Linked DNA regions of Homo sapiens: all the other regions are reported to be linked to region 2. Evidence: microRNA targets listed by miRTarBase, many of them from high-throughput screens and not tested one by one. Region 2 holds a microRNA gene; each other region holds the end of a gene's coding sequence. Distances are from middle to middle.
The links. Region 2 holds the annotated microRNA hsa-miR-8485 (CACACACACACACACACGUAU, at 1,350-1,370, opposite strand). A microRNA usually pairs through its seed, bases 2 to 8, with sites in the 3' UTR of a target mRNA and lowers its output. Matches are read on the target gene's strand: a 7mer-m8 pairs with bases 2 to 8, a 7mer-A1 pairs with bases 2 to 7 and ends in A, and an 8mer does both.

Region 1: miRTarBase lists CACUL1 as a target of hsa-miR-8485. The part of its 3' UTR that is shown has no 7-base or 8-base seed match.
Region 3: miRTarBase lists GEMIN6 as a target of hsa-miR-8485. Seed matches in the 3' UTR shown: 7mer-m8 at 635-641, 7mer-m8 at 637-643, 8mer at 639-646, 7mer-m8 at 647-653, 7mer-m8 at 649-655, 7mer-m8 at 651-657 and 1 more.
Region 4: the mRNA of CCDC174 is a reported target of hsa-miR-8485. Seed matches in the 3' UTR shown: 7mer-m8 at 1,798-1,804.
Region 5: miRTarBase lists ACSL4 as a target of hsa-miR-8485. Seed matches in the 3' UTR shown: 7mer-m8 at 1,485-1,491, 7mer-m8 at 1,483-1,489, 7mer-m8 at 1,481-1,487, 7mer-m8 at 1,479-1,485 and 7mer-m8 at 1,477-1,483.

The regions. Positions count from the first base shown.
Region 1 is chr10:118,683,192-118,687,225 of GRCh38, forward strand. CACUL1 (CDK2 associated cullin domain 1) reads right to left here. Exons shown (of 9, transcript NM_153810.5): 8 at 3,407-3,450; 9 at 1-2,977. The coding sequence ends at 2,937. Among named protein-coding and RNA genes, the nearest start is that of CACUL1, 70 kb to the right of the region's middle.
Region 2 is chr2:50,694,823-50,698,856 of GRCh38, forward strand. It overlaps MIR8485 (microRNA 8485), which reads right to left and starts at 1,440; the gene lies at 1,350-1,440. All of the region lies in intron 5 of NRXN1 (neurexin 1), which reads right to left.
Region 3 is chr2:38,781,342-38,784,341 of GRCh38, forward strand. It overlaps GEMIN6 (gem nuclear organelle associated protein 6), which reads left to right. Exons shown (of 3, transcript NM_024775.10): 3 at 176-3,000. The coding sequence ends at 551. Among named protein-coding and RNA genes, the nearest start is that of GEMIN6, 4.6 kb to the left of the region's middle.
Region 4 is chr3:14,669,780-14,673,633 of GRCh38, reverse strand. CCDC174 (coiled-coil domain containing 174) reads right to left here. Exons shown (of 11, transcript NM_016474.5): 10 at 3,548-3,700; 11 at 979-2,738. The coding sequence ends at 2,440. Among named protein-coding and RNA genes, the nearest start is that of C3orf20, 3.4 kb to the left of the region's middle. RefSeq lists enhancers at 1,307-1,516, 1,451-2,650.
Region 5 is chrX:109,641,103-109,645,136 of GRCh38, forward strand. ACSL4 (acyl-CoA synthetase long chain family member 4) reads right to left here. Exons shown (of 16, transcript NM_001318510.2): 16 at 233-3,084. The coding sequence ends at 2,927. Among named protein-coding and RNA genes, the nearest start is that of KCNE5, 18 kb to the left of the region's middle.

The DNA of each region.
Region 1 (4,034 bases), not on the chromosome of region 2:
CCGGCTTTCCTTTTAAGGAGCCAGTTTCAGGCTGCACATACATACTAGACAGTTGAAGCAAATCAGCCATTGACTAACCAGACAACCAGCCTGCATGTACGGTTTTGTATCTTCAATGATTTGGGCCTTTAGTGATGTGGTACAAAACCCAGTATGTAATTGGGGTAGAAAAACCATATACTGTACTGGCAAGAATACAAAAAAAAAAAAAAAAAAGGCCAGGTGCAGTGGCTCACACCTATAATCCCAGCACTTTGGGAGGCCGAGGTGGGTGGATCACTTGAGGTCAGGAGTTCAAGACCAGCCTGACCAACATGGTGAAACCCCGTCTCTACTAAAAACAAAATACAAAAAGTAGCCGGGCGTAGTGGCACGTGCCTGTAATTCCAGCTACTCAGGAGGCCGAGGCAGGAGAATCACTTGAACCCAGGAGGCAGAGGTTGCAGTGAGCTGAGATTGCACCACTGCACTCCAGCCTGGGTGAGAGAGTGAGACTCCATCTCAAAAACAAAATATAAGAAAACAGAAGAAAACAGTTTCTGGCAAACAGTCAATATAAAATGAGAGGAAGGAGGAGGAAATCTTATTTCCTCTCATACTGCAAACTCACTCAGAATTTTTTAGAATCCCAATAAATAAGCAAAGTCTATTTCAACTTAAACAGGTCCTTCAAACTGTGATGTGCCTCAAGGGGCCAAGATGATTAACAGCCAGGACATGTAGACTGGGAGACTATGTACAACCTTTCTATAGTGACTTCCAGTCAAGGTTTTGTTGTATTAAGAGCTGACCCATAGCCAGCTGCAGTCACTGTGCAAAAATTTAGAGAAACTAAATTTTGCAAACTTTACTTTGCCCACTTTTTATTAATACATACATAGTAAAAAGAATATATTTCTCCATGAACTTAATAATGCAAAAGCATCCAAAGATTTTAATGCCAATTCACATTATACTGTGATGCTTTTATAGGGAAAGTTCTTTTGTAAAAGAATGCTCTCTCCCAGAAAAAGCATTTGGGTATATTATTAGGATACTGAAGAATTTCTCCACATTTAGAAACATTCCAATTTTATTCCTTTCAGAAAAATTATTAATACCACTCACTCAGACTTCAGTTCTAGGTGTGATTGGTAAGCCTGAAGCAAGCATTCCATTGAGAAAAGTAAAATGTGAATGTCATGATGAATGGAATTCTCCTTGATACTAGAATGTTACCAGTGTAGCAACTTAAACTGTCCAGGTCATAGTGAGAGCCTGTCTATGTTCTTACAGTAATTCAGTGTTCATCGATGCAATCCAGGATGCTCACAGAGTGAATTGAGTCCAATTAAAGTCCACAAAATCCACGAACTCTGGTTAAGTACTTTAAAAAATAAATCTGACAACCTTTATCTTTACTTCTCTGTATAACAGTTTTACAAATCAAGGACTTCAATTATTGGGTGACTTACTTGCTCCCAATATCCCACTTCTAACTCTCCCACCCACACCACTCCCCCCAAAAAATAAACTGAATTGGCAGAGGCAGCTGTATGAAGAACCTGCAGAGCAGACATGCGACAGCATCCCTGGGATGTTTCTTTTCCCCTCAAGTTCTCTGAAGAGGTAAATACTATTAGTCTGATGTTGCCTAGTAGAGAAGCCTATGCTCAATTAAGATTCAAGCAAAATTGAGAAGAAAAGTATTTTTCTCTTGCCACATCTATTTTTCTTGGGCTTTCAACAACAGCTAGAATAAGCTTCAGAAACTTTTATGATGGACTAAAAAGCACTGTGGATGTGGAGAAACAGAAATATAGCTTTGCCACAGCTGGAAGGGAGCCTTAGGACAGCAGTGCTACTTCTTCCCTATCACACTCAAATATAATGTTCAAATGACAGACTTTTTTTAAGTAATTATCTCATTCATTTAAAATGAAGTGATCAGGAACCCCACACCACTGTGTATTTGGACTTAATAACTGTATCTGCTTCCTAGAGCATCGCAGGAAGTAGCTCTCAATAATACTAAGGGAAGCTTCCGTGCTAAAGTACCGCCCATCCCTAAACTAGAGTACTGCCAATACTATAGCAGCTGGTGACAGACATCGTGTTAAGTGGCACAGGGAATGGAAATGCTCTAGGAGAGTTGGTCCCCAACATTAATATGAATATGCTCTGGTGAACCAGGGGAAAATCCGACCCATGTGCAAAAGGTTTCTATTTTCCCACTTAATTAGCATCCTGCTACAGGGCCACACCTGCCATCTTGGTGGGTGAGTTTAGATACCATACACTTCTCCAGGAGGAGTTTGACAACATGGTCACACAGTTGCAAAGTGCACAAAGCTCAAGGCACAGAGTAGAAGAAAGTTGTGAACTGATGGGGGAAAGTTCTAGCAAAAGCAGAGTTAGCATTTTCCTTTAACAAGACTTTCTAATGCTAAACAAAGACCAACTCTTTTAAAAGGGGTTGTTTTGGTTGTGGGTGAAAAATACTGTACTGTAATGATCTGCTTGGTTTTAAAGCAAAAGAGATCCTGACATGTGAAACCAATACACCAAAATGCCAAGTCCACAAATGAACAAAACAAGTGCTTAAAAAAAAAATTCTTCTGCTCTTATATTTTTGGAGGAAGCTGCTGATTTTGGCTGTCAGATTTCACTTAGAAATGGTCACTTTCTGAGATGCTTTTTCCTCACAGAATCTGTAGATAAACTCATTAAAAGATTGTCCCATTTCAAAATCACCCCCAAGTCTAGCAGCAACGTTTTTTTTTTTTTTAGTTTTTGTTTTAAAATTACAAACCAAGTAAGAAGTCCAACATCCTCTTCCATGAACAGCTTTGTGACAGAGCTCCTGAGTGTGTGCAGCCCCCACTGTGCTCTGAATACAGTCTCTGCAGCTCCAGTGTGTCCTCTTTTCAGGAAGGAAAGCATATTCAATACATTCACTATCTGTACCCCCTGGAACTTGCACATGCTGACGAGCTATCTGAAAAAACATCAGAATAGGAAAAAGTATGAAGAGCAGACAGCATTTGATAACAGCAGGAATCTGTTTATTCAACACACATTTCTCACTCCTCTCCCAACTCCCCAAAAAAGGCTTAAAAAAAATCCTCAAAACCATGTGGGGTGGAGGGAAGTAAAAGGGGACTGAGAACCTAAGGAACTGGGACTGGGCTACGATGTCATCCCAGTAGAAACTAAAGAACCTGGTGGCCTCTTTCCAATGCCCTGAGAACCATCGCTACCAGCTGGAGCTGCCACAGCATGCAAAGCATCCTGACCTTGATTACAAGCAGTGCCTTATGAGAACAACATGGGTATCATCAAATTCAATGCACTGTTATCACAGTGCATTAATATGGCTGCTTTACATCACAGAACCATCAAGATGGGAAGGAACATCATTACTTACTATAAGCCAACTCATCCCCAGCTCTCTTCCGGGACTGGTCACCCCTGGGGATAAGAAGAGGCAGTCAACAAAACTGACTTCACATCAAAACAGGAGGAAAGGATCAACATATTTGATAATAAAAGTATAGCAGACATTTCAGTTCTAACCAAACCTATTTAAAAATACATATTAAACATCTTAGAATCCTGATGTACCTCACTATGCTTTCTGCAGATGGAAGAACATGAGCCTTTACCTGTATTAACCAGTTCATCCTCAAACACCTATGAAAGTTCTAATTCCACTTTAGAGTTAAGAAAATAGAGGTTCTGACTAGGCCCTAAGCTACCTACAAATCCTATTTTTGTGTCTCCAGCTTCTCAGACAATAACAGAAATGACTCAAATGCTTAGGTAATGAGAAATAATAATCACTACTAGCCTTTCTTCCTCAGCATTTATAAGTTGATTTCTTCCTGAAACACGATTTTTTTCTCTTTAGGTTTCAGTAATGCCACAGCACACATTCCTGACCTTACCTCACCCTGTCTGCCATCCTTTTGAGGTCTCCTTTGCTGGCTCTACCCAGCCCTCTGTCGCTGGTCATCTTTTCTTCTCCACGTGTAGTCCAGGATGGTGATCATACA
Region 2 (4,034 bases):
AGGCTTTATTCTACATTTTAGCAATAGTCTTTCCTTGGCTTATAAAAAATTAATTGCGGGGTATTCTCTTGATTGGGTACTTTAGATCCTGGTGACTGTTCTAACTGATGGGGCTGAAAGACAGTTCCCTTATCTCATAGCCAAATCACCTCCATGCAAATTGATCTGGGAGTGCCTTTAGAATAAACACAGCTGGATTCTCTGCAGCCATTTATGGGTCCAGTTTCCTAGGCTTAATTTTGATTTATAACTACTGAAATTAAATTAGCCATCTTCACTGCTTAAGGGTGGCTTTGATTTCACCAGTGCAGTAGGGAGACTATTTACCAACATATTTTATCAGTAACATTTCAACCTGGGTAAGGGGGTGGCGGTGGGGGGAAGGCATCTTATCTTTGGTATTTGTACTTGAGATTCCTTCAGAATATTTTAATTGTATTATTTACCGACAAATGTGAGGATTAGATTGTCAAATCAGACTCACATGAATTAAAGATCTTGCCCAGCATCAAGCTTTGCTAAATAATTTCAAGGATATAAGCTATCAAGTTCAGATAAGGTGCATCATATAACATAAAGTGGTGTACCTTATGTCATATGCTCCAGGTAGCCCTGCCTCATAGATCCTGGGTTCTATTAACTATGGGTAATCCCTTAGCCAGAGACATCTTGCTAGGGACAGAGATATAGTCTCTTATTCATAGTAAGTAACATTAGTCTATTTCCATTTGACAAAGAGATTAGACTAAGTCTTTGCTTTCCTCTAGGAGCACAAATTATTGTACAAAACGAGAAACAAAATTTGAGAGATTAAAATATGTGAAATATGTTAATAGTTCTAAGAAGGCTTTTATCTAGAACACGGTAATAAATGTCGACGTGCTATAGTAGGAAGAGTTGAAGATAAATGGTTAGATATCGCTTTTTATCCATATGACTTTGTGCATTAGTTTTTTGAGCCTCAGTTTTACTAATATTCCAAAGGATTAGGGAAATAAGCCTAACCAGAGTGACTCTGATTTTTTTTTTTTTTTTTTTGAGATGGAGCTTCGCTCTTTCACTCAGGCTGGAGTGCAGTGGCACAATCTTGGCTCACTGCAACCTCTGCCCTCCAGCTTCAAGCGATTCTTCTGTCTCAGCCTCCCAAGCAGCTGGGATTACAGGCGCCCACCACCATGCTTGGCTAATTTTTGTATTTTTAGCAGAGATGGGGTTTCACCATGTTGGGCAGGCTGGTCTTGAACTCCTGACCTCAGGTGATCCATCCGCCTCAGCCTCCGAAAGTGCTAGGATTACAGGCAAGAGCCACCACACCCAGTCGACTATGGAAATTTTAAAAGACAGTACATATACGTGTGTGTGTGTGTGTGTGTGTGTGTGTGTGTGTGTGTATGTATACACATATGCTATATACACACACACACACACGTATATCACAGAACTGAAGACCATAAAATGTTCTATACATATGAAAAAATGAGAATTTGAAATGTACATAATTCTTCACACAGATAGCTGACAGTGTTATAAATCTCCTTTCTTATAAATAAGAAAAACAGTCTCAGAAGTAAGTAATATTCTGATGGAGAGTTAGAAAAGAAAACCTGTCTTACAACTCTTTAAACATGCTTCTCCTCTAAGCTAAATCATAGTTTGCTAAAGAAGGTCGTGATAAGGTAGAAGAAAGACAAGAAAAGCCAAGGCAATGGGGTGAAGCAGGCGGAGAAAACTGTTTATGCCTCTTCTTCCAATGTCTATTTATTTTCTTTGTGGTTCTGAGCAACTATTTCTTCTTTTATCTTGCAACTGTCAAAGCAGCTCTCTGTAGAGAAACCAGCAAGCACACCCATTAAAACCAAAGCATGAATTTTCGGGTGAGGATCAGTGAGGCTCTCTTAAGAATACCTGAATTTTCACAGAGATAAACATATTTATTTGATTTAAATGGTAGAAAGTGTTAATTACTAAGTTTCATATACTACCAGGAGTCATAGAGAAGTCATTTTGGAGACCAAGAGTATATTCCTAGACCATGTAATCACATCATTTGAGTAGCTGCTTACTGAGTTTATTCACAATGAAAGCCTGATACATAAATTCTTTAAACAGAAACCAGTGGCATTGTTAATTTCCACTTTTGTTTCCAAATTGTTGCTTTTGTCTCATTGAGAGCATATTACTTACTTCAAGCACCTTAACAAACAAAGCTGGGTCATACACAAACGTCCTACTGTACCAGCAATAAGACAATATGAATACCCTGCAACCTCTCAACAACCAGAAGACAAAGATGTATTTGGAAGGGGCAGATGGGAAGTGAAAAAGAGAAATAAAATATACTTTACAGGGAATATTTTGCACACGTAATTCTGAGTGTTATATTTTTAGCTTGTATAAATAAACTTCATTAGTCTTCATTTTGAATATACAGGAAAAGTTTTTTTAGAAAAGACTCATTGTCACAAGCTGATAAGGTAAGTTAGGACAGTATATGATTAATATGCTACAATGATGTCTAAGAGAGAGGATGCTCATTAAATTTGTGTGTGACAAAAGTTGGAAAGAGTGTTAAGACCTTGAAATACTGGAGCATCTTTCAAAGTGAAACTTGACAAGTTAGAGAAATGGTCAGATAGAGAAATGGATTTTAATCAGACTGAAAGGAAAATTAATGTATTGGTTTTGTCAGTTGTACCTTCATCTTGAACGTAATGACTGCCTGTTACTTCCTCTGTGGTTTCATCCGAACCTAACGCGACACTCCCCTGAAAGGTCTCCTCTCTCCCTTCCTTGCTCTTCTGTAGCCCATGCTTCACTTCTCAACTATGGTGATGTTTTGAAGATGTGAATTAGATTACATCATTCTTTTCTTCAAATCCTCAAATAATATTTAGAATATAATTCAAATCCTGGGTTGCCATGGTCTACAAGGCCTCAAATAAAATAGGTTCTGCCCACATCTTTGTTTCATTTTCTTTCTTTTCTCTGCCTCCAGGTTGGCACTTTTGTTCCTTTAACTCTTCAATTTACCTTGGTGCTTTGTACCAGCTGTTCCCCCAAAGTAGACAGCTCTCCATAGCTCTTCACACGGCTGCACTTCCTGCTACTCTCACTTAAAGTCACTGCCTTGAGCCAATTTCGTTAATCTGGCTCTAAATAACAACACAACCCCATCTACACTACAGTTCATCCTAATACCAGTCTAATTTTCTTCATAACACCTATCATTATCTGAAATCATCTTAGTTGTTTCACTTTAGAATCCTCCTTCTCTCATGAGAAAGTAAACATTGTGCGGGCAGGGTCATGGTCTTGTTTGTCCTGTACTTCCCACCCGTACAGCAGTGCTGGCACTTAGTAGGTGCTCAGTAGATATTCGTTGACAGTATAAGACAGAAGTCCTCAAATGTTGTCCAAGGACATTTGGTAGTCCCTGAGACTTTCGGGAGGGCCAAGGGCCAAAATCTTTTTCATCATCTCACAAATATACAACGGTGCTGTCTAGAGGCCAAAGGATATATGCTATCACAAAAGATTGCCTGCAGAAGTAGTTGTGAGAATCTAGCTCTCTTAAGCCAAACATCAAAGAGATTGTCAATAATGTAAAATAAGTCACTCTTCTCACAAAATTATCTTAGTGTTGGAATATAATTATTTTTCATAAAAGTACACAATTTATTTTAACATGCAACATGCAATGTGGTGGCTATTTTAAAATGAATTAATAAATATATAAATGTTTTCTCAGTCAATTCTCAATAGAGTAAACACTAATACATATACATAACCTATACAACAAACATAAACTTCTCAGAGGTTTTCAATACATTTAAAAAGTAAAAAGGGATCTTGAATCCAAAAATGTGAAAACCACTGAAACAGAATCTCATCAACTAGTCTCCATTATTCCCTAGAAAACATCCAGTAGAACTTTCTTCTCCAGTTAAAATTGCCCTCAAAGAAGGTTTTCTCTTTCCTGATATCCATGCTTTTGCTATTCATTGTTTATGAAATGTCTGTCTGTTTCTCTCTTT
Region 3 (3,000 bases), 12 Mb from region 2:
TTGGCTGTAGGCTGGGCAAAAAGTTTACCTATTTAGGATCCTTAGTGAATGTTTGTTGAATAAATGGAAGCATTCATTGGTGACAGGATTAATTTCAAACAGAGTAGAGTGTCATCTATTATTTTAGTGACCTACTTGGGTTGATGATGCCTCTAAACTTACTTTTCCTCCAAAGTATTGTCCTTGTGAACTTCCTTGAAGATGGCAGCATGTCTGTGACCGGAATTATGGGACATGCTGTGCAGACTGTTGAAACTATGAATGAAGGGGACCATAGAGTGAGGGAGAAGCTGATGCATTTGTTCACGTCTGGAGACTGCAAAGCATACAGCCCAGAGGATCTGGAAGAGAGAAAGAACAGCCTAAAGAAATGGCTTGAGAAGAACCACATCCCCATCACTGAACAGGGAGACGCTCCAAGGACTCTCTGTGTGGCTGGGGTCCTGACTATAGACCCACCATATGGTCCAGAAAATTGCAGCAGCTCTAATGAGATTATTCTGTCGCGTGTTCAGGATCTTATTGAAGGACATCTTACAGCTTCCCAATGAGAGGCCAGGAAGTGTGAACATACTGATAGAAAAAGACTATATTTTATCCCTCATAAAATGTTTTAAATGTAAATGTACATGACTGTGTGTGTGTATGTGTGTGTGTGTATAATTCTTTGTTGTTTTGGTAAAATCAGAGGAGTGGGTTATAAGTGCTAATTTCCTTGGGAAATTAATGAACTAGGGCAAGTATAGCATCCCATGCATAAAATTAGCACAGGGACATCAGAATTGTATGGGTCTTCTTTTTTCTTTTTTTCTTTTTTTTTTGAGATGGAGTCTCGCTCTGTTGCCAGGTTTGAGTGCAGTGGCGCAATCTCAGCTCAGTGCAACCTCCGCCTCCCAGGTTCAACCGATTCCCCTGCCTCAGCCTCTCGAGTAGCTGGGACTACAGGTGCACGCCACCACTCCCAGCTAATTTTTTGTATTTTAGTAGAGATGGGGTTTCACCTGTATGGGTCTTTTCTTGTGATGGGGTTACACCCCCATTTTTGTTAGGCAAGAAAAGCATTTGGAAAAAAATGTAACATGTTAGATTCAATATAAAATATTATGGTAAGATCATGGTCTTGTTAAGTCTCTTCACTAACTGTATGTGTCTGTTTTTAAAAGATGTGTCTTGGTGGGGCGCGGTGGCTCACGCCTGTAATCCCAGCACTTTGGGAGGCCGAGGCAGGTGGATCATGAGGTCAGGAGATCGAGACCATCCTGGCTAACACGGTGAAACCCCTTCTCTACTAAAAATACAAAAAAAATTAGCCGGGCGTGGTGGCAGGTGCCTGTAGTCCCAGCTACTCAGGAGGCTGAGGCAGGAGAATGGCATGAACCCGGGAGGCAGAGCTTGCAGTGAGCCGAGATCGCGCCACTGCACTCTAGCCTGGGTGACAGAGCGAGACTCCGTCTCAAAAAAAAAAAAAAAAATTATTGGAACACAGCATTACCTATTGAATTACAGTTTTCTGGTTTTTTTGTGGAGTTTTTGTTTTGGTTTTTGAGATGGAGTTTCACTCTTGTTCCCCAGGCTGGAGTGTAATAGTGCAATCTCGGCTTACCACAACCTCTGCCTCCCAGGTTCAAGCAATTCTCCTGCCTCAGCCTCCTGAGTAGCTGGTATTACAGGCATGCACCATCACGCCCCACTAATTTTGTATTTTTTTAGTAGAGACGGGGTTTTTCCATGTTGGTCAGGCTGGTCTCAAACTCCCGACCTCAGGTGATCCGCCCGCCTCGGCCTCCCAAAGTTCTGGGATTACAGGTGTGAGCCACCGTGCCCGGCTGTTTTTTGTGGGTTTTTTGTTTGTTTGTTTGTTTTTGAGACAGAGTCTTGCTCTGTCACTCAGGCTGGAGTGCAGTGGCACAATCTCGGCTCACTGCAACCTCTGCCTCCTGAGTTCAAGCCATTCTCCTGCCTCAGCCCCCTCAGTAGCTGGGATTACCAGGCACATAGCACCATGCCCAGCTAATGTTTGTATTTTTAGTAGAGACAGGGTTTCACCATGTTGACCAGGCTGGTCTTGAACTCCTGACCTCATGATCTGCCTGCCGTGGCCTCCCAAAGTGCTGGGATTATAGGCATGAGAGCCTCCGTGCCTGGCTTTTTTTTTTTTTTTTTTTTTTTAAAAGAGGGTCTTGATATGTTGCCCAGGCTTGTCTTCAACTCCTGGGTTCAAGTGATCCTTCCACCTTGGCCTCCCAAAGTGCTGGGAATATAGGTGTGAGCTGCCATGTCCAGCTGTAAGAAATATTTTAAAATATTTAAGCTTCAGGGCCTTTGAATACAGGCCCTGATAACATAGCTATTTTCCTGCATAGTTGTCTAATAACAAGATGGTATAGCCCAGTGCTTCTTGCACTTTAGCAAGCATCAGAATCAGCAAATATTTAGGTTTCAGGGCCTTTGAATACAGTCTGATAACACAGCTATTTTCCTGCATAGTTGTCTAATAACAAGATGGTATAGTCCAGTGCTTCCTGCATGTTGGCAAGCATCAGAATCAGCTGCAGGGCTTTTCAAAACAGATTGCTGGACCCTCCTCCCAACAGATTCTGATTCAGTAGTTCTAGTTGGGACCCAGGAATTTGCATTTCCAACAGACTCCCAGATAATGATGTTACCGTTCCCAGACCACACTTGCAGAAGCAGTTCAGAAACTTCAGGGGAACAGAAAGTTCCTCCCTCACGGCTTCAAAGTTCCATGATCCTGAAAGCAAAATTTAGCACACATCACCTTTCTCCTAGTGGCTAAGACTCTCCTGTTCAAACCCTGGATGTCTTCAGAAAGCAAATAGAAGGGGAATATGAACAGACTGAAGTCAGCAAGGAAATGACTGACAAGATGAGGGAGGCCTTTGAAAAGGAAGAAGCCAGCTGGGCGCGGTGGCTCACGCCTGTAATCCCAGCACTTTGGGAGGCCTAGGCGGGCCGATCACTTGAGGCCAGGATTTGTGA
Region 4 (3,854 bases), not on the chromosome of region 2:
CTTCCTGCTGCCTGCCTTGTCTCTGTCTCCCTTCTCCTTTCTACTCCACAGTCAGCCTCAAGTCCTTCTGCTCTGGGTTACACACACATCCTCTTTCCATCTTTCTTTGTCTATTCATTGTTTTTTTTTTTTTTTTTGAGACACAGCCTTGCTCTTGTTGCCCAGGCTAGAGTGCAGTGGCGCGATCTTGGCTTACTGCAAGCTCCGCCTCCTGGGTTCATGCCATTCTCCTGCCTCAGCCTCCTGAGTAGCTGGGACCACAGGCACCTGCCACCACGCCTGGCTAATTTTTTGTATTTTTAGTAGAGACAGGGTTTCACCGTGTTAGCCAGGATGGTCTCGATCTCCTGACCTCGTGATCCGCCCGCCTTGGCCTCCCAAAGTGCTGGGATTACAGGCGTGAGCCACCGTGCCCAGCTGTTTTCTTTCTACCCTTTCTTTTTTCTATTTTTCCTATGATTCTAGCATGTCTAATAATTCTATTTTTCTTTTTAGTATTCCAATTTTTCTTTTTGTCTCCTCCCTCTTTATCCTACAAGCTGTTTCAGTAGGTTTTGTAGTTTTAGCTCTTACATTTAGGTCTTTGATTCATCGTGAGTTGATTTTTTGTATGTGGTGTGAGGCAGAAGTCCAAACCCATTCTTTTGCATGGAATATTCACTTGTCCCAGAACCATTTGTTGAAAAGACTGCTCTTTCCCCACTGGATGGTCCTGGCACCACTGTCAAAAATCAATTGACCACGGATATATGTTTTATTTCTGGACTCTCGCCTCTATTCCACTGATCTATGTGTCTATTCTTATGCCACTACCACACTGTGTAGATTATCGTAGCTTTGTGGTCAATCTTGAAATCAGGAAGTGTGAGTCCTCTTTGTTTTTTCTCTAGATTGTTTTGACTATTCTGGGTTCCTTGCATTTCCATGTGAATTTTAAGATTAGCTTGTCAATTTCTGCAAAAAAGGCAGCTGGGTTAGTTGGTTTTTATGTGTATTTATTAAAAAAAGCAATTACCCGATTAGGCTGACAGAATGATTAGGCTGACCATTAAAAGGACTGGCAACTTTATCCTCAGAGTTTAGAGGTAAGTTTGTAAGAATTCAGGATGTTTGTCTAAGATTGCTTGATACTAGGGCAACAAGACTGAGAGCAGAGGGCACTAAAAAGACTGTCTAGGGGTTAGACATCAATTGTGTTTAAGTCTGAGATCTGCCCCTTAGGTACCATATGACCCTGCACAAGTCATCGACCCCTCCACACTCCAGTGTGTCATCTGTAATGAGGATGGGGCACTCCCTTCCACACTGCAGCACTGCGGGAACCGAGACAATGCCATCGCAGAGGACCTGCAGGGGACAGGCTACTTCACTCACTCCTCTCCTTCCCACTCTTCAGAGAACAAGGACTTGTGCTACTGTATTCTCACAGCACTCACTGGCCTGGGAACCAGCTGTGGGAGCCCTATGGGCCTGGTCATCAACTCTCAACTGCTTGTGTGCAGCTGTAGGAACCCTCTGAGGTGTGGCAGGTAGAGGATGGGGTGGGTGCCCAGGCACACTGCTGACTTTCTGGAGCCCTGCCCACCCCCAACCCTCTCCTTATTACTAATGACACGGGAACCCACCTGCTCCACTGTGCAGCCCCAAGTCTGATCCAAGTCAGGCTCCTGAATGTGAGGAAGCCGAGCATGGGGGCGACAGGGAGGTGGGATGCACTGAAAAGCTCTAACCATTGCCGCTAAGGCACATCAGTCTCTGACCAGGTCCAGCAGCCTCCACGTACGTCCCAGTCCTTCAACACACATTTACTGAATGCCCACTGCACACAGGAGTGTAGGTAATAGCATGGTATGACAGTAAAATTAAGTAAACAACTCCCACTTCTACCTTTCTGGACTACGAAGAGCTCCTCCTGGTCTTCCTTATCATTTCCTATGTGATTACTTCCGGGTCCTCTTGGAGAACAGAGCATTTTGCCTCCCATGCAGTTTTCCACTGCTTGACAGGGAGAAATTCCTCGTGACCTATGGTCCATCGGCTGATCTGGAAGCTGAACCCTTGGAATAAAGACACCTGCATGCTCGGATTTGCAAAAGGAATGGAAAAGAACCCTTAAATATGAGTAAGTCGTGGGAGTAGATATGAAACAGGGTTATAAGCACATCTCAGTGTCTAATTTTACAGAATAAATACTTCTATTCTATCGCAGCTCACATGTAAATCCAGGTAGGTATGTCCCTATCCCACTTAGAATAAAATGAACAGCCAAGTGGCCAAAGTTTCCATAACTTTCCTCCTTGCTGACAAATCCAACCCGAAGTCTGTGCCTCCTAGGGAAAGGACAGGACAAAGGTACAATTCAGTTCCTAAAGTTATTTCTCCCTCTGGGAGAGAAAGGCACTGTCAAAGTACAAACCCAAGTCAGCGTGCTTTGAAAGATCATGTCACTTGTTTGTAATAGGAAATCATGTCATCCAGAGTTTTGAAAGTAACTGTGGGGGCTTGTGGTGGGTTGTCGGGGGCAGGAGTGGGTGACGTATGTTCAGGGCTAGGTCCGTGGCTCTGGTCAGGGCACTGCCCTGGGTCACTCTGTGCTGGCCCAGGTCTGCTCCATGCCTGGCTGCTGGAAAAACCAGTTCTCTTCTGACCCACAAAGTAATCTGACGGCGGGGCAAACTCAGGATCTCTCTCAGCCCGGAGATCTGACTGCCTCTTCGACCAGTATCCAAAGGAAAATTCTGGTAAAAATAAGAAAGAAAGTTATTAGAACTGATTAACGAATCAGTTGAATTTATTGTTACTATTATCTAATTGTATCATATATTTCTTAAAAGCCACCACAAATTATCCAAAGAATAAGAATGGCAACAGCAAAACTATATTACAAGGTATAAGTAATACCTACAACGAGTATAAAAGACCAGGCTAAGAAAAGGGAGTGACTATCTCTAGATGGGGAAATACAGAAAAAGAGAAATACAGACAAATTATCTGCTTGACATGACATTGTAGGTATTTCATACCAAAATACAAATTTTGTCCGTTATTGAGTTTTGGAAGACACAAAAGGGAACTGTCCAACCTTGTCTGGTATTTCATCTCTATTTCTAACAGTGGCTCTTGCATTTCTCTTACTTTAGCTTTGGATCTTATCAGCTCAGACAGCATGGGCTAATGTTCTACTGAAATGATCTTTTTCAAAGAGGCATAAACCATAGTCTTCCAGAGAGGCTGCTGTGGACACTCTGGAGAATTTACAGAAAAAATGTCCAGGGAAATTCCCCAATGGAACCATGTGTGAATCCAGGTTAGTACACTGGCATGTAGACCATTTTCAACTGAACATAAAAGAGGCTGCTAAAAACAGAGCATATGAGAACACCAAACTTTCATAATACTTTAAAGGCAGGTCCTGAGAAATGGCATTCCAAAGCTGTAAAACCACACAAGGCAGCACGAAGTTAAAACTTACCCCAAGTGCTTCTAGAAAAAAAACCATTTTCCATTCACTGGAGAGTTCTTACACCTCAGAGCCCACCTCCCTTACCTTTTCCGCGGTCCCACTCCCGGATGTGTGGCACTCCAGGCTTGGTGTCCTTCCTCTCCTGGACAATGACTTCTACTTTGCTACTCTGGGCAGCAGGACGTGGGGTTGGCACAGCCTCTGGCTCCGGTGGCAAAGGCCCAATAACATCTCCATCTATTTTTTGTAAAAGAATAAGACACTGTTATAAAAAAGCCTAAAGCTATTTTTAAAAATACAGAACATGCTAATCCTGAAAGTAAAAGTAACCATCAGTATTTATGAAGTACCTAACATGTCCCAGGCAGTGGATTAAGTCTTTTGTATACAA
Region 5 (4,034 bases), not on the chromosome of region 2:
TCCCAAAGTATCAGTGTTACAAAGGGGTTTTACTCTATTGACTGGACCAAAGTAACAGTTTGGGATTCAAATACTCTGAACTAATGGATGGGACTATACAAGCCGGTTTAACTGCTTAATGCAATTCCATAAACCTGGAGATGAGTACTTTAAAAATATGTGTTTAAAAGTTTGGTTAATAATCTTCAAACTTGGAGATTTTATCTCAATGCATAATGAAGTACAAATTGGCTTGATAACATGGGTGGATTTATTTCTTAAGATTTGAGTGCAAACTTAAAAACAAGAACAAACAAAGCTTTTCATCAAGAATAAACACAAAATCTAAACAATTCTGCAATCATGCATTTTAACAGAAAGTACAAATATGAATACATTATAATTTGTAACTGCATTTAAAAATTAAAATATTTCTCTCCAAATCCAAAACACCACACAATCTTTATCTGTTCTCATCTTGTTACCTTAGAAACATTTGTCATATGCTATCAGGAAAATATAGGCAAGACTTACTAATCAGTTATTCATGATCAAAGAAACATGATTCTCCTTAACTGTGACTTTTTGAATCATTTATCTGTATTTCTGAAATATCACACAATTATACCTCTACTCTAGAGAAAAAAAGAATAAATACAAATATCAAGGAGGCAGGAACATTCATGGAATTAAAGCAAAAGTCACAAGTGTTTGACTTAGAAATGTACATATTGTAGTAAATTTTTAAAGTACAACTTTAGTTGATGGCTGATGTGTATGTAATAACTGTGAGCAATTTAAACAGGTATAAAAATGTGAGATCAAAATCTTTAGGCTTAAATACTTGAAAAGTCACTATGGATATGGAAAGATTTGTTTACATAAACATGTATATTTTTAGATGGAAAATCAAGGGGTAGTGGCATCTCCCTGGTCCCTTAACAATATTTGGATTTTTGCAAAGAATTAGCAGCACCCAACCTTAAGTGTTAATTATGTGTTTCTAAAGGACCTATAACAGATCAGTTGGCAGTGTTCTAGCTTTTGGGAGTTGGGGGCAGATTGGGGGTGCAAATATCTGAGATAAGATAGTACATGCACTCACACATTTAAAATCACCATTCTAAATGGGAAAAAAAATCACATATTGGAAAAGTCTAAGAAACTCATTCTTAAGGGATAAACAGCAGGGCAGGAATAAAAGCTGAACAGTAGTCTACTTGATAATAATGGTATTTCACTCTTCAAAGGCAAGTTGGGAAGAATGAGAATACTCACATACACATAACTTCAGGGAAAACTTGCCTAAAATTTTACCTTGCAAAACGCTGAACAGAAATCTTTACAAAAACCTTCATTCTTGTTTATAATACTTGATTTTTCCCTTATTACCACCATATACATAACATTTAAGTATTTTCTTCATAAATATTTTAGAGCAAAAAGAATGTATTTTGTTGCAATGGTGGCCCACATCTGTACAAAACAACATAAGCAACACACACACACACATATATATATGCATATATATAAAAAATGATTAAGAAAAAGTGCAAAGAATAACAGTATTAAGATTTTTTGCATTTTACAGTAACTATGGTTCAAGTGTGAATATTTATCAGGGATATATAATCCCAGGTTTTAATTAAAGATTCAAAAAGAAACCACACTCCCAAGTTACTGCACAAACATCAGTCCCTTATCAAGTAACTCTGCCCTTCTCCCAAATCTAGTATTTCCAGTTTCTAAGCTCTTCCCAAACAGGAAAAAATGATAACAGTGTTTTCTTCCCTTTAACTTCCCAAAACTCATCCAAGTTAATCACCTGTAAGTTCAAGCAAGATATTGGGGAAGTCATTCATTATAACCCGCTTTGCTAAAATTAAAGCAAAATGAAAGGCTTTCTGAAATGCAAACTACTGATCAAGAATAAAATCAGCAACAGCAAACAGACCTTAAATTACAAATGTAATTTAATACATGTACATTTTAAAATCAATCCCTGTTATCAAAGATAAATTCAGAGTTTAAATCTCTTTCCCAGGTTCAGTGCTGTGCAAGGGTTCTAATTCCAAATACTTATGATTTTATCACCTTTTCTAAGAGAAAATGTTTGCCTGTTAACTTTTTACCTTCCTTGCTCTTGGTCTCAGCTTTTCAGTTTGAATAAACACAGAAAGGCAATTTTCAGCATTTCAAAAAATGTACTTTCCTCTTAGTCATTCAAATAATTACAGTTATTTTTAGATCTCAAAGTTTCAAAAAAAGCAGCTCAATTTCCCTTTAAATATATTACTAGATATTTTTTGGTGTTGTATATGTTGTTCTATTCTTATTTTAGGCACTGTAATTATTCACAACATTACAATGACTCTATATCTAACCTATGCAACAATTATAATCTTAATACCTTCTAAGGTATTATTTGATTTTGTGTATTATATTACTATTGAATTTTTCCTTCAAGATAAATGGTTGGAAGAGAATTTTAAAGCCCTGCAGCACTTTTGCTTTGAGTAGTGTTAATACATATTTTCTGTCATGCTTAATATTTAAACTTCTGAAATAGGAAGACAAGAGGCATTGGAAGCTGCAAATTTCCTCAAACTACATTCTACTCCAACTCCAATTTATTTTGTTCAACATTAAATATTTTTCTTTACAAAAACAAGTATATCTTAGGCTAATTTTTAAAAACAGAATTTCTGCTCTATAATAACACAGCTAAAGGGAAATAACTTTTCAATTTCAGCTGCACTAGAACTATGCAAAACTAAGTTAAAGTAAACCGGACAACAATTTTAATAACTTTTGGTTTTGTTTTCTTTTTACTCTATCTTTAGAATGATATACCTTACATTCTAACAGTTCAACAAAGGCTTAAAATTCTAGAGGTTGAAAACCACCAGGCTACCTCCTGCACAACTGTCAATAAGACAACAACATTTTATTTGCCCCCATACATTCGTTCAATGTCTTTGAGGTAATGGTTCCTCAGCTCCTTCCTTTTCAGTTTGAAAGCATCAGTTACCAAACCAGTTTCAGGGGTCCATGGCTCTGGGCTTAATCGAACCTTGATTGGAATTTCAAATCGCTCCAATTTCACTGAAATTAGAAGTGAAAGATGGGAGAAAAGGAGAGGGGGGGAAAGAGACGAGAAAGGAGTGGGGACGGGGAAAGAAGGGGAAGGAGAAGCAATTAATAAAATATGAGTTTTTCAGGATTTACCTAGATGATTCGGGTGTTGAATCACCAATCACCACAAACTTATTTAATGGTATACTAGATAGTTTATTAATGCTACCTCTACCTTACAATTTCATTTTATATTTCTCAAAGTATACCTAAGTTGTTTCAGTTGGATAGTTTTAGTCTATGTGGTTATTAAAATATACATACATATACACATTATTTATACTCACACACACACACATACACACACATCTTCCTCTTCAGAGACTTTATATTTGCCTGAGATGGTCTTTCTCAATAAAGTTGTGTGTCACTTCCATACTTTATCCATATGTCTGCTCAAATACCACCACCCCGGAGAGGACATCCCTGACCACTCATAACAAAAGAGAAGGGGGAGGAGCCAAGATGGCCAAATACGAACAGCTCTGGTCTACAGCTCCCAGCCTGAGCGACACAGAAGACGGGTGATTTCTGCATTTCCATCTGAGGTACCAGGTTCATCTCACTAGGGAGTGCCAGACAGTGGGCGCAGGTCAGTGGGTGTGCGCACCATGCGCGAGCCGAAGCAGGGCGAGGCATTGCCTCACTCGGGAAGCACAAGGGGTCAGGGAGTTCCCTTTCCTAGTCAAAGAAACGGGTCACCTGGAAAATCGGGTCACTCCCACCCAAATACTGTGCTTTTCCGACAGGCTTAAAAAACGGTGCACCAGGAGATTATAGCCCGCACCTGGCTCGGAGGGTCCTACGCCCACGGAGTCTCGCTGATTGCTAGCACAGCAGTCTGAGATCAAACTGCAAGGTGGCAGGGAGGCTGGGGGAGGGGCGCCCGCCATTGCCCAGGCTTGCTTAGGTAAACAAAG